4 linked regions of the Homo sapiens genome follow. The protein of the gene in region 1 interacts with the protein of each later gene in a biochemical or structural test. Each region holds a gene or a part of one and is shown in the gene's direction. Other genes may lie near its edges.

The links.
Region 2: the proteins of LIN7A (region 1) and TYRP1 interact in a test that uses a peptide from one of them, tested with the Homo sapiens proteins (one large-scale study listed by IntAct).
Region 3: the proteins of LIN7A (region 1) and SLC22A12 interact in a test that uses a peptide from one of them, tested with the Homo sapiens proteins (one large-scale study listed by IntAct).
Region 4: the proteins of LIN7A (region 1) and TMEM215 interact in a test that uses a peptide from one of them, tested with the Homo sapiens proteins (one large-scale study listed by IntAct).

What each region holds. Positions count from the first base shown.
Region 1 is NC_000012.12:80,812,435-80,815,934, reverse strand, and holds part of LIN7A (protein lin-7 homolog A), read left to right. Parts: intron 1-3,500. UniProt on the Homo sapiens protein: Plays a role in establishing and maintaining the asymmetric distribution of channels and receptors at the plasma membrane of polarized cells.
Region 2 is NC_000009.12:12,696,385-12,699,884, forward strand, and holds part of TYRP1 (5,6-dihydroxyindole-2-carboxylic acid oxidase precursor), read left to right. Parts: intron 1-2,066; coding exon 2,067-2,271; intron 2,272-3,500. UniProt on the Homo sapiens protein: Plays a role in melanin biosynthesis. Catalyzes the oxidation of 5,6-dihydroxyindole-2-carboxylic acid (DHICA) into indole-5,6-quinone-2-carboxylic acid in the presence of bound Cu(2+) ions, but not in the presence of Zn(2+).
Region 3 is NC_000011.10:64,594,220-64,597,719, forward strand, and holds part of SLC22A12 (solute carrier family 22 member 12), read left to right. Parts: intron 1-3,500. UniProt on the Homo sapiens protein: Electroneutral antiporter that translocates urate across the apical membrane of proximal tubular cells in exchange for monovalent organic or inorganic anions. Involved in renal reabsorption of urate and helps maintaining blood levels of uric acid.
Region 4 is NC_000009.12:32,786,892-32,789,701, forward strand, and holds the end of TMEM215 (transmembrane protein 215), read left to right. Parts: 3' UTR 1-2,310; downstream 2,311-2,810.

The sequences.
Region 1 (3,500 bases):
CTTCTCTTTGGTCAAAATATTTCCTGGGTACCTACTATATACCCTCAGGCTGTTCTCATCACTCCTCACCTTCTTAATAAAATCCAATTTTACCAGACGTCCATTGCAAGGCCTTGTTAAATTAATTTATGCTAATGCAATAGGTACAACAAAACTCTTAAAGCAAGGGGATAAAACTTAAAAATATAGAATTTCAGCTTTTAAATGGAGGAGGGGGTTTCACTGTAAAATAAGAAGTCTTTTTAGAGCTCTTAAAGTCATATAAGAACCACCTTCTCAGCCTATGTAGGAAGCTGGTGCTACAAGTTTTCAGTGATTGCTCAAACTTACACTGGTTCTTATAAAAGACAACTCTGAATCAGGAGTGCTTGTATATACAGCTTTGATAAAAATAGCTTAACTGTTTATAAATAACCTATCACATTTCAAAATATGTCTTAAATATTTAGCTAGAAATGATGCATACTTTCATTAAGAGTGAGACACAGACTAAGTCAAAAGCAAGAATAGATGCTGAACTTTCAGGGCTCAAGGAATACCTGTGAAGGGCTTGCACATCAACATTTATACCCTAACTGAGTAGATCTTTTGGCTTCTTTTTATTCATGCAACAAGACTTCTGTGGCAAGATGGTTTGATTTCTTGTTCTTACCTTAAAAGGGAAAGAAAGAAGAAGAGAAAACTGCCTTATTCTTATTACAAAGTTATACTGATGGACTAAAAGCACTCCAGAGATAAATAATAGGTTAAGGAGACAAGCATATGTACTCAAAAGTATTTACAAAGTAGGCAAAGCTAGTGGGGAAAAAAAGGCCACAAAAATAATCCTTAAGACAAGATATGCTTCTGAAAACAATTAAAAAGCAAAGTTGAGGAGTGTTTGAAATAAAAATTTTTCAAGTATGCTTATATTTCTTAATATCTTTCTAAAATTCACTTCTTAGCTGCTTAATTATATAATTTGTAGGATGTTAGTAAAGCATTTCAGTAGTACAAATGAGGAACTGTGACACTGCCCAGATCTCTCATAGTGGCTCTGTGTCCTGGTGGGAAAGACAGTAGAGCCAAACCAACAGACCTGTTGACTCTGTTGAGCCTTAAAGAGAATCTGAGTCCTTGTCTAAACTGAAGATAAAGCATGAAGGCAAAATTTCTGGAATTGAAAACTGTGGAGTCTGCTTTTGATACATTGTTAACTGTGTGGGAGAGGGCAGAGCAGGGACTGGAAGAGGATAACCTTGATGGTTTTGCAGGGCCTGGTGTGTGGTGCACCAGCCAGCCGTTTTTCTCTCAACTCTTCACCACCACCGTGAGAGCCTAATGGCCCACACACATTAGTACCACAGCCCTCCTGTGGCAACTGAATCGCAGACACAGTGCCAAAACAGAGATAATGGGCCTCTAAAGGTCTGGCCTAGAATCTCCAACCCTATTAAATAAAAGCAAATAGAACAAAAGCCACGAAGAAGTCTACAGACTGATGATCTGGCCTAGAAACTGGGTGAACCATTATTAAAACATAAACATGTAAGTTTTAATATTAAAAAAGAAATTAGAGAAGGGTATGTAGACAACCAAATCACCAAGTTTTCCTTTCAAAGGAAAATTATATGCATTAACAAATCATCATGGGACCAGTTATAAAGAAATTACAAACATACTGAAAATAGGGTTTATATTGCACGATGCTGTCAAAGTTTACCTTCCTTTCATGTTTTCTCAAGAAACGTAGTAGACTATAATTCATAAAATAAATGCTTAATAAACATATTAGTTGAGTGGCTAAGCCAATGATCAAATGATCCCTTAAGTCTCCAAATCTGCAGTAGAAATTATGAATCTGAAGGTATAATTCAAGGGTGCTTAAGATTTCACTTCCTTTATTTTTCTGTAACTCAATTTAGTATCTTTTTGAGTTTCCCTTCTGCTTGGATTGTGAAAATGTAATGTCAAACAATTGAGGGTGGCCTTCTCTGCCTCTTCAGTGTGACTCCTAGGTCGTCTGACACTCTTTAACCTTATCTCAGTCTCCATCTATCACACTGCACAGTGATTTTTTTTCTCTGTACTTTACCCAAGAAGCAAGGCAAAAAGGCCTTGGCAGTTCAATCCTGTAAATTAAGGGTTCTGTCATCTGCCCTGGTGATCCGCTCAGAGGGGCAGGAGCCAGGGTTTCCTTATGTAGGGTCCTATAAAGTCTAATTACAACTTTCTTCTTTTTGCTTCTCCATCATCCTAACCTGGAGAATCTTCAGAAGATTGGGAAAAAAGCAGCATTGTGTTTACTTAGAGGAAGCATAGTTTCTCCAAGTATTGTCTACGCCATGATGTTCAAAAGACTGTTTTGAAACTCAAAAGCCAAGAATTGATTTGTTTTTTGTTTTCTGTATCTATCTTATAAGTATGTGTGCCTATTTGATTGTATCCTGAATAGATTTTTCTTAATATAAAATTATTCACTTATAATAAGGGCTTATTCAATGCATAACGATAGTGCCCTCCAGAAAAATTTCACCAGTTTTTGTTAAGTTATTAGCAGTCTGAGTCCAATTTTCCTACATCCTTGTCTGTACACCAAATTTTAAAATATATATTTATCATTTTTAAGTTAAAAATGAAATATTGACCAGGCACGGTGGCTTACGCCTGTAATCCCAGCACTTTGGGAGGCCGAGGTGGGCGGATCACAAGGTCAGGAGATCAAGACCATCCTGGCTAACATGGTGAAACCCTGTCTTTACTAAAAATAGAAAAAAATTAGCTGGGCGTGGTGGCAGGCACCTGTAGTCCCAGCTACTCGGGAGGCTGAGGCAGGAGAATGGCATGAACCCGGGAGGCGGAGCTTGCAGTGAGCCAAGATCGCGCCATTGCACTCTAGCCTGGGCAACAGAGCAAGACTCCGTCTCAAAAAAAAATATATCTGTATATTTATTTTTATGTCGGTCTATACTTCTTTGATTACTAGGGAGTTTGAATATCTTTTCTGAGGTCTATTGTCCATTTATATTTTTTATTTTTTGTCCATGCATGTCAACTGCTCATTCTGCTTAGATCTTTATTGACTTGTTAGAAGAATGAAGGGCAGGCTGGGTGTGGTGGCTCATGCCTGTACTCCCAGCAGCTTGAGAGGCTGAGGGAGGTGGATCGCTTGAGGTCAGGAGTTCAAGACCAGCCTGGCCAACATAGTGAAACGCCATCTCTACTAAAAATATAAAATTAGCCGGGCGTGGTGTTGCACACCTTTAATCCCAGCTACTCGAGAGGCTGAGGCAGGAGAATCTCTTGAACCCAGGAGGCGGAGGTGGTGGTGAGCCCAGATCAGGCCACTGCACACCAGCCTGGCCAACAAGAGTGAAACTCTGTCTCAAAAAAACAAAAAAGGGCAAATAAACCAGAAAAAAAACCCTTTTGCACTAAGTATATGACAGTCACATACTGAAACTGTTTTTCTGGTTTGCCTTTTTTTTTTTTTTTTTTTTTTTTTACAGTGTTTGAGACAT
Region 2 (3,500 bases), on another chromosome or scaffold:
CTTACAGAAGAAACCTATTAAAATATCACATCACTATATAAGAGGACAGATATTTTAATTTGCTTGGCTATAGTAATCACTTTACTATGTATATTTATATCAAAGCACCATGTTGTACACCTAAAATATGTAAAATTTGAAAAAAAGTTGAAAAATATCAAAATAATTATATCAGTCAGGCAATATTTTTAGTGAAAAGACATTGGCTTTTTATTTGGCACAAAGTGAACCTCAACTCAAGCAGTTATTTCATGCTTATTTTCTAAGCAGATAAGCTTCAAACATATTAAAGTATCTAGTTACGTAGATTCTTTACTCTTATTTCTTTTACCAACTGCTCTGTTCCTTGAGAAAAATATGGAAATTTTAAAATAAAAGTTTAAGTTGTTAGATCTCAACTAGGAAATCCACAAAGTAAACCTGTTTTCTATGTGAAATAACAGCAATGAATCTCCCCCTTCAAGTTAAGATATAAAAATTAAGCTAAAAATATCTGAAGAAGGGAAAGGCGTTTAGATTCATTTATTAATTTGCAGAATGCTGTGCCAGCATTATTCCGAGAAAAAATAAATGGTTAGAAGAGAGAGAATTAATGCACTAACATACAGGATAAAATATTCTTTTGAAAGTACACTATCCATTTGCAGTTTGAGAGTGATTAAATGAATTCATCTGATACTCTGAACGTCATATTTTATAGCTCTGATTGCAAGTAAGACATTTAGTAGATTATAGATAAATCTGTCATTTGTAATTGACTGCAGATCTTCATGCCTTCAAGTCATTTTCTCATGGGCACACCAAAATGAAAGGGCAGGTGGAAAGTATCTAAAAGCTTCAATTTTGCCTGTGTAAACTTCAACCTCTATGACTTACATTTTAAAGACCCAACAGCACAAGGGATGCAACAAATTAGAATTTAAATGTAATTCGTGGTTGAAATGCCACATGAATATGCTCTGGCTCCCAAATGTCAGTTGCTGAACCACAAACCGATTCTTAATGATCCCTTGGAAGCTGTCACTAATTTTTGTGAACCACAATGATGGCTTCTAAAGGAGGACTACAAACCCCTGGAGACCAATAACTGGGGATAACTTGGAAAGCTTTTGGCTCTCTAAAACACCCAAGGATAAGAAAATGCTTCCTAGGAAGGGATTTAAAGTGAAAAAGTAGAAATATACTGAGTGCTTGAGAGATAAGATAAAACAATTGCAATCCCTACATTTAAATCCCATACCATAAATAGAACTTCTCAAGGCACCAAAGAAATGAGAAATAACAAGGAAATGTATGTTTTAAAGAACCGAATGAAATAAGCATGTGATCTTGAGGCCAGCATTTTTAAAAATGTGAGATCAGCTTTGAATGGAAACTAGGTCTCTGATCTAAAAAACAATGGGCAGAAAGATTTACTCTGCTTCTGTTTAGCATTTTTATCAGTATAAATTTAGGCAGAAGCCTGAGTCTTAAAAGTTTAGATTCTAAGGCAGGGTTCCCTAAATAAAACACCTTCCGTGCTCAGTGTGAAAGAGTCCATTGGCCTGTTGCCAAACCAGAATCTAAATGCCTAGTCATTCAAATTAAATTTAAAAACAGAAGCAAAACAAAAATTAGCACTCCACAAAACATATTTTAAGGCTGGATCTGGCTCCAGACTAAGAGTTAATGATGCTTGAATTAAAGATAGGAAAATGGAAGAAGGTGGAAATGCCAAGAAGTGGATGTTGTTATTGATAACTTTTTTGTATAACCAATATAAATGTAATTATCTGCCTAAAAAAGAAAAAGAAGACCCTTTATCCCTTTAAATCATTTTCAGAAATGTCTGCATAATGAGTTGAGTTTCATTCCCTCTAATGCCTAAATGACACCTTGTAATAAATTACCAGCTTTGTTAAATAAGGTTTTAACTCCTCTGGGCCCCTCAGACACCGTTGATATACTAACCAGTACCTTATTGTCTGAAGAGAGCTAATAGAAATAGACTGTCAGAGAGTAGACCAAACAGAAATGAATAATTGTAAACAGAAGCAGAGAGTATTAATGTGGTTTCTGTGATCTAGGAAATGTTGCAAGAGCCTTCTTTCTCCCTTCCTTACTGGAATTTTGCAACGGGGAAAAATGTCTGTGATATCTGCACGGATGACTTGATGGGATCCAGAAGCAACTTTGATTCCACTCTAATAAGCCCAAACTCTGTCTTTTCTCAATGGCGAGTGGTCTGTGACTCCTTGGAAGATTATGATACCCTGGGAACACTTTGTAACAGTAAGTTCCAAATGATAGCTTGGAGTCAGAATTTCTTTTTAGATAAAGAGATTAAATATGTTGCCTGAAAGGCCCTTCATTCTACTAGAGAATTCAGACTAAAATCTACTTTTATTATAGAGTAACAGTGTACCAGGCATTCATTAAACACCTAGAATGTTCAAGGTACTCTAGAAGTTGCTCCAGGGGAAACAGAAAGTGCCTACACATTTTTACACTGCCTTTCTTGAGTAGTTTGGTCAATATCTTGCTAACTTTCTTATTTTGGAAATGTCTAGTTGTATAAACTAATCCTCTTAGTTTTCTTAGCACTACTTAGAAGTCATGTGTCTTGTGTTGGAATTTCACAGAAAATGTTTCCTAAGAAAATGTGAAAAATAGGCAAAAAGTTGGAAATGCCCTGGGAAGAAAAAAAAGAAAAGAAGCAAACCAAATGTATGCTTGCAGTTATAAAGTTAGAAAACAAAAGCTGATATGGGGGATAGTTTTCAGAAAAGGAGTATATTGTACTGATGTCTGCCCCCTAGCTGCTTTCCAGCTCTTCCAAAGTGAACACAGTAAGAGTACGCCTAATCAGTTGTCCCAGCATCCTTTCTCCAGTGATCTGAATGCCACCACTGTCACAGGTCAAGTTTCTGCCACATGTAGATCTCTTCCTGAGCTTTCTGTTCTCCTCCTTGGATCATATTATTATTTGTGCCTGTGGTAGTAACACAAGGTTTAATTATTAGACACCCCCTACCTCATCTTATTTTTCTTCTTCAGGCATGTATGGCTCTTTTGATTGTTCTTCCATATAAAAATAAGAGTTATGTGAATTTGTTTTCTTATTATAATCACCACATACTTATTCTACATGTATTATTTTATGCATCAAGTATTATTTTATGAACTTAAATAAGAAATACTCTAAATAAATCAGCAGGAATTAGATACATATTTTCACCATTAGATTATTTAGCAATGTATAGGAATAAGAGAAGTGATAATATATGAAAATTTCCTCTGTAGAAGTTTAAAACTTAGAATAAATTTGTATTTGTTTGGTATGCTGAATGCATGATCCCACCTTGTGGCAGAGAACTGAAATTGAGGATCAGGATGTCTGCAGATGCCAAAATGTTTATACTCTTTGTGACCAGGCCATTGTATTTTGGCCTGAGAGTTTTCTAGACATTTCCCAATCACCCTGATGATTGGATACCAAAATAAAACACAGTTTAAATGAG
Region 3 (3,500 bases), on another chromosome or scaffold:
GCACACACAGCGCACAGCCGCAGTCTGCTTCATGGGCTGACAGAATCAATGCTTGTGTCTGTCTGCTGGAAGACAGGGACCAGGATCCACTCATCAGAGGGGAGTCCACAGTCCCCACAGAGGGCCGGCATGTGTGGGAGGTTAGGAAATGTCAGCACTGCCCTGAAACAAATCAGGCGTGGCCCTTGCCGAGCACCTGGCACATAGTAGGTGCTAAATAAATATTTGTTGAATGGATGAATTGTTAGGTAAGTAGAAATAGATAGATAGGTAGGTAGGTAGGTAGGTAGGTAGGTAGGTAGGTAGATAGATAGAGACAGATAAATAAATGGGTTGACAGATGTGTGGATTGGATGAGTGGATGGGTGAGTTGGTGGATAGATGGATTGGATTGTATAGATGAATTGAATGGATGGTTGAATGGATGGATAGATGGATGGATGGTTGGAATAGATGGATGGACGGATGGATGGATGGATGGATGGATGGATGGATGGATGGATGGACGGACAGACGGACGGACGGTTGGATGGATGGATGGATGGATGGATGAATGGATAGTTGGAATAAATGGATGGATGGATGAATGGATGGATGGATGGGTGGATGGACGGACGGATGGATGGACAGATGGAATGGATGGATGGATGGTTGGAATGGATGGATGGATGGAATGGATGGATGGATGGAATGGATGGATGGATTGTTGAATGGATGGTTGGATGGATGGATGGATGGATGGTTGGAATAGATGGATGGATGGATGGGTGGATGGATGGATGGATGGATGGATGGATGGATGGTTGGAATAGATGGATGGATGGATGGGTGGATGGATGGATGGATGGATGGATGGATAGATGGATAGATGGAAAGGATGGATGGATGGATGGATGGATGGATGGATGGATGGATGGTTGAATGGATGGTTGAATGGATGGTTGGATGGATGGATGGATGGATGGATGGACGGATGGATGGATGTTTGGAATAGATGGATGGATGGATGGATGGATGGATGGATGGATGGATGGAATGGATGGATGGATGGATGGATGGTTGAATGGATGGTTGGATGGATGGATGGATGGATGGATGGATGGATGGATGGATGGTTGAATGGATGGTTGAATGGATGGATGGATGGATGGATGGATGGATGGATGGATGGATGGACGGACGGATGGATGGATGGATGTTTGGAATAGATGGATGGATGGATGATGGATGGATGGAATGGATGGATGTTTGGAATAGATGGATGGATGGATGGAATGGATGGATGGATGGTTGGAATGAATGGATGGATGGATGGTTGGAATGGATGGATGGATGGATGGTTGGAATGGATGGATGGATGGAATGGAAGGAGGGATGGATGGATGGATGGTTGAATGGATGGATAGATGGATGGATGGTTGAATGGGTGGAATGAAAGGATGGATGGTTGTAATAGATGGATGGATGGATGGTTGGAATAGATGGATGGATGGATGGATGGTTGGAATAGACGGATGGATGGATGGTTGGAATAGATGGATGGATGGATGGTTGGAATGGATGAATGGATGGATGGATAGATGATTGGAATAGATGGATGGATGGACGGTTGAATGGATGGATGGATGGATGGATGGATAGTTGAATGGATGGAATGGATGGATGGATGGTTGGAATAGATGAATGGATAGATGGTTGGAAAAGATGGATGGATGGATGGATGGATGGATGGATGGATGGATGGATGGAATGGATGGATGGTTGGAATAGATGGAATGGATGGATGGATGGATGGATGGATGGAATGGATGGATGGTTGGAATAGATGGAATGGATAGATGGATGGATGGATGGATGGTTTGATGGTTGAATGGATGGATGGATGGAATGGATGGATGAATGGAATTGATGGATGGATGGGATGGATGGATGGATTGATGGATAGTTGGAATAGATGGAATGGATGGATGGATGGATGGTCGAATGGATAGTTGAATGGATGGATGCATGGATGGATGGATGGATGGAATGGATGGATGGATGGATGGATGGATGGATGGATGGATGGATGGCTGAATGGATGGTTGAATGGATGGTTGAATGGATGGATGGATGGATGGGTGGATGGATGGATGAATGGATGGATGGATGGATGGAATGGATGGATGGATGGTTGGATGGATGGTTGAATGGATGGATAGGTGGATTAATTGGATGAACTGGATGGATGAATGGATAGATGGATGGACGGAGGCCATTTGAGGGCAGGGCTGAGCCTGGATCATTCATACACAGGCCCTGCACTTAGTAGTTGTTTGGTCATTGGGACCACTGTAGAAAGGAGCACAGCAGAGGCCCAGTGGTGAGCAGGTGCCCGCACCCACACTAAGAAGAAGGCTGAGTCCACAAATCTCTCCCACCCAACAGCTTGGAGTGGAGTAACAATTTGCAGCCACTCCTCAGAGCAGGAGAAAATTACATCTCATACAGTGGCTCCACAAGGAGGCAATCGTGTCCGACAAGAGCCTTCTGGGATGGCAGCTTGACTCCCAACACCAAGAGGGTAGAGAGTGGAAGGTAAAGGTCAGTGATAAAAATTCCAAGGCACCCCTCCTGGTTCTCATGCTGATGCAGGGCCACAGAGCTGCACCCCCCTTTCCTTGGTAGACGTGCTCCCACAGGGCTGAAGAAGTGCCCATTCATTCATTCATTACTTCATTCATTCAACAAATAACTACTGAGCACCTACCATGTGCCAGGCGCTGGCTGACACCAGCTATGAGCAGATATGTGGTCTCTGCCCACGTGGAGCTCATAGGGAATCCCACACATCGTGGCCTCACAAACTGTGCTTAGGGCTTGACGAACAACCTGGGGTATTGACATCTGAGAATGGGACCCCGCTTTCTCCCTCCCAGTCACTTACAACACATTCCAGTCAGCTTTCTCCCTCTTCTCCGCCCAAACTGCCCTTCCCAGGGTCACCCACAATGATCTGGCCACCATCACTTGTGGTACCTGCTATGTGGCGGGCACAGTCCACACTCTCTCCCTCAGGCAGCCTCACCCCTGCCTGCAGCCCCAGCTCCCTCCAAATACTGCAGACCCCAAATCTCCACTTGGTCCTGCCTCCCCCACTGACCTCCAGCCTTACACCTCCAACTGCCCACGTGACGGTTCCATTATAGGTGTCTCATCCCCACACACATCTCCTTAGACCTCTCCTCCCCAAGTCTTCCCCAGCGTGGGGAGCAGCCCCTGAACTCACCAGAGTCACAGTGGCCATGACGCCTCTCTCTCCCTCACCATCCCCCCACCAAGTCCACTGGGTCACCAGGCTTCATCAGCTCTATCTCTAATATGCACCTGGAATCTCCACTTCTCCCCTCTGTTCTGCAAATCCCTAAGGAGCTCAGGGCCCCGGTGGGTGTAGGGCAGGTGGCCCCACCCTGGCTGCTCATAGGGGACAACACGTCTGGCTGAAGGACCTGCAGGAGCCA
Region 4 (2,810 bases), on another chromosome or scaffold:
TGGGGAGAGATAGTTTCCTAAAATCACAGTAACTTTTAATAATTGTAATGCATTTTGAAAACAGAGAATCATATTTTTATAATGGTGAGAACTATGCAATAACTCTTTAGGAATGAAAACTTCCTTTAAGAAGTTTGCCACCGTTAGAGATGAGGAGATAGTGAGACAGAGAGATGTTCACAGAGACTCAGCAAATCTTAGACAATAATGCTGCAATTTTCTGAAAGAAGATGCTTGCAGTGTCAGGTATGGTTTGGGGGTTGGAAAAGTTACTTTTCTGATTTCTTGGAACCATTTAAAACTCCTTTATATCATTCTGTCTCTTTCCAAATTGAGGGTCAACTACTAGTTTAGAGATATAAGGTATTTTATCTTGTTTTCAAGTTCTACTTCAGAAGAAAACCTATTTCATGTTTCTTCTCCCATTACCTACTTAAGATACTTAAGGTATTTAAGTATGCATTTGAGGAAATATTTTCCTGTGCTAAAATAAAGGTTTGCAAATGTTGGTGTGAGAGGTTTTAACTTTGACCAGTGAGAATAAAATGTATGATTGTGTGTGTGAATTTCTCCTAACATATTAACCAACTCCTTTCTATATGCAACAAGGTAACCTGGTGCCCCAAATCAATACTTGTAAGTACTATTCAGAGTTAAACTTCCAAAGTCAAAAAATATATATACACAAAAAAAGGGGAAAAGCCACATTTTTTTGAACAGAGGTAGAAGAGAAAGAGAAAAAAAGTGTCTCAGCCCTTTAGAGGAAAAGAGAGCAACTCATTCTGATGAGTTACACAGTTTTAGCAAATTGTTCTTATCAATATAATAGACATGAGGATTGTTCCTGGTAGCCTTCAAGAGCTCCTAGACAGATATAAATTTAAGTAGACATTACTTTATTTTGCTGTTAATCCAAGTAGACATTGCGACTTGATTCTGAATAGGCATTTTATTTTCAAAATTTTTCTACTGAATTTCTCTTGCTCTGTATGCCTACTTATTGTGCACATGGGTTGTTTTTCCAAACTGCTTCTTGATTCTTAAGTGAGAATTCAGACATGATACTCAAACGAGAGCATATTAGACATCTGTTTTAAGATTTATTTTCTGTTGCAGTCATCTTGGCAAACAAAATCCAGATACAGTTAAGTTCAGGCTCTCTTCCAAACCCTGCTAAGCAGCTGCTTTGAAAATGTTTTCAATACTATGGATCTTAATATCCACTGAGATGACAAATGTAGGAAAGGAAGATTCATTCTGTTAAATGTTTTTTCTCTTTTGCAATGTCCAAGCTCTACTTATTTATTAATAGCCTCCCTCTGTACCCATAACATCATTTATTTGGTGAATTCACTGTTATTAATACTAGTATTTTATCACAGTAAAGAAAAGGTTTCTGAAAACCCACAACCTCACTATCCTAAAGCAACTACTGTGTTTCTATTTTGGTATATCATCTTCCAGGCTTCCTCCACATGCAAATGCAGCATACATATTATAATAGTGTGTTTTTCTTTTCTCTTTGAATTATATTCCATGCATGTTTCCATGTTTCTATGTAGTATTTCTAATTATCAATGAACGATTGTGTAATATGCCATTTTAGTGATGTTCCATAATTTATCATGCCATTCCTTATTGCTGGCAAGATACTAAGTTTTATGGATGATTTTGTATGTTTTTTTCCTATTGCTGGTTACACTGCTATATTATTTGTTATATGCCAATAGAGAGGAACTTTACTATTGAACAGGTATCTCCTTGTGGATGAGAGAGAGGAGGCAGAAATGTGTAAATGAATGGAACTCTCCATATTGTTGTGTGGGTCTTCCCTTCACTCTTGTGGATATAAGACCCAGGGTGGGAAACAAAACGATGCTTCTTCCAAAAGATCCTCCCATCAGGACCAGAACTAGTATGTTTAGGAGTAAGATGGAACATTTCCCCAGCTAAGATACCAGTGGTGTGTTTCTCACAATTAGATTACAGTGGTGTCAGTCTTCAAGAGCATCGTGTTCAACAAGCAAAATGATAAATAGATGTAAACAATAATAATGACTTTGTAATATGCCAAAAGCATTTTCTTAAAGTACCTCATCATATATTTTATAATAGATGTATTTCATATGTATATGTATTGTCGCCTATCAGTGACTTACAAATGAACTGGAATTTCAGGAATCTGATAGACTCTGCCCTTGAGTTTTCTGTGTTTCAGTTTCCTACTGGGAAAAACTAAACTGAGGATGGAAATGGGGACAAATGCTTGGTTTGCCCAAATATCTTAATAAAAGACTAGATTCCATTCAACCTCTTGTCCAGTTCACATAAAATCATGTAGACACCACTGAGTCTGAGACCATGACTTTGATTTCTCATGACCTACCGCAGGGTCCTCACTCTATGGGCACCCAACCAAAAGAAATGTGTACATGATGCTGCCCAGATACACAAACAGGCAGGCACTGATGTTAGATAGCCAGTCTTTGGCAAGTTGTTCCTGGGACTGACCCTTACTAGGGATTCTTTTTTTATTTTTCCCTTTATTCCTTCCCTGACCCCAGATTACAGCCTGCAGACTTGGTATTCTCGGTGATAGTACAAAGCTTTGCATGCTTTATCCCTAATAAGGTACAGAGTTACAAAATGAACCGATTACAAAACAGTACATAAAGCTATTAAAAATCTCCTGTGCTGCTCTTTGACAAATCTATCTTTAGAAAGTTGAACATAAAAGATAATTTTGCAATTAGTCACTTTCTTATTTTTCATGGTAATGAACTATTGTACATAAGACAACTCTTCAGTAG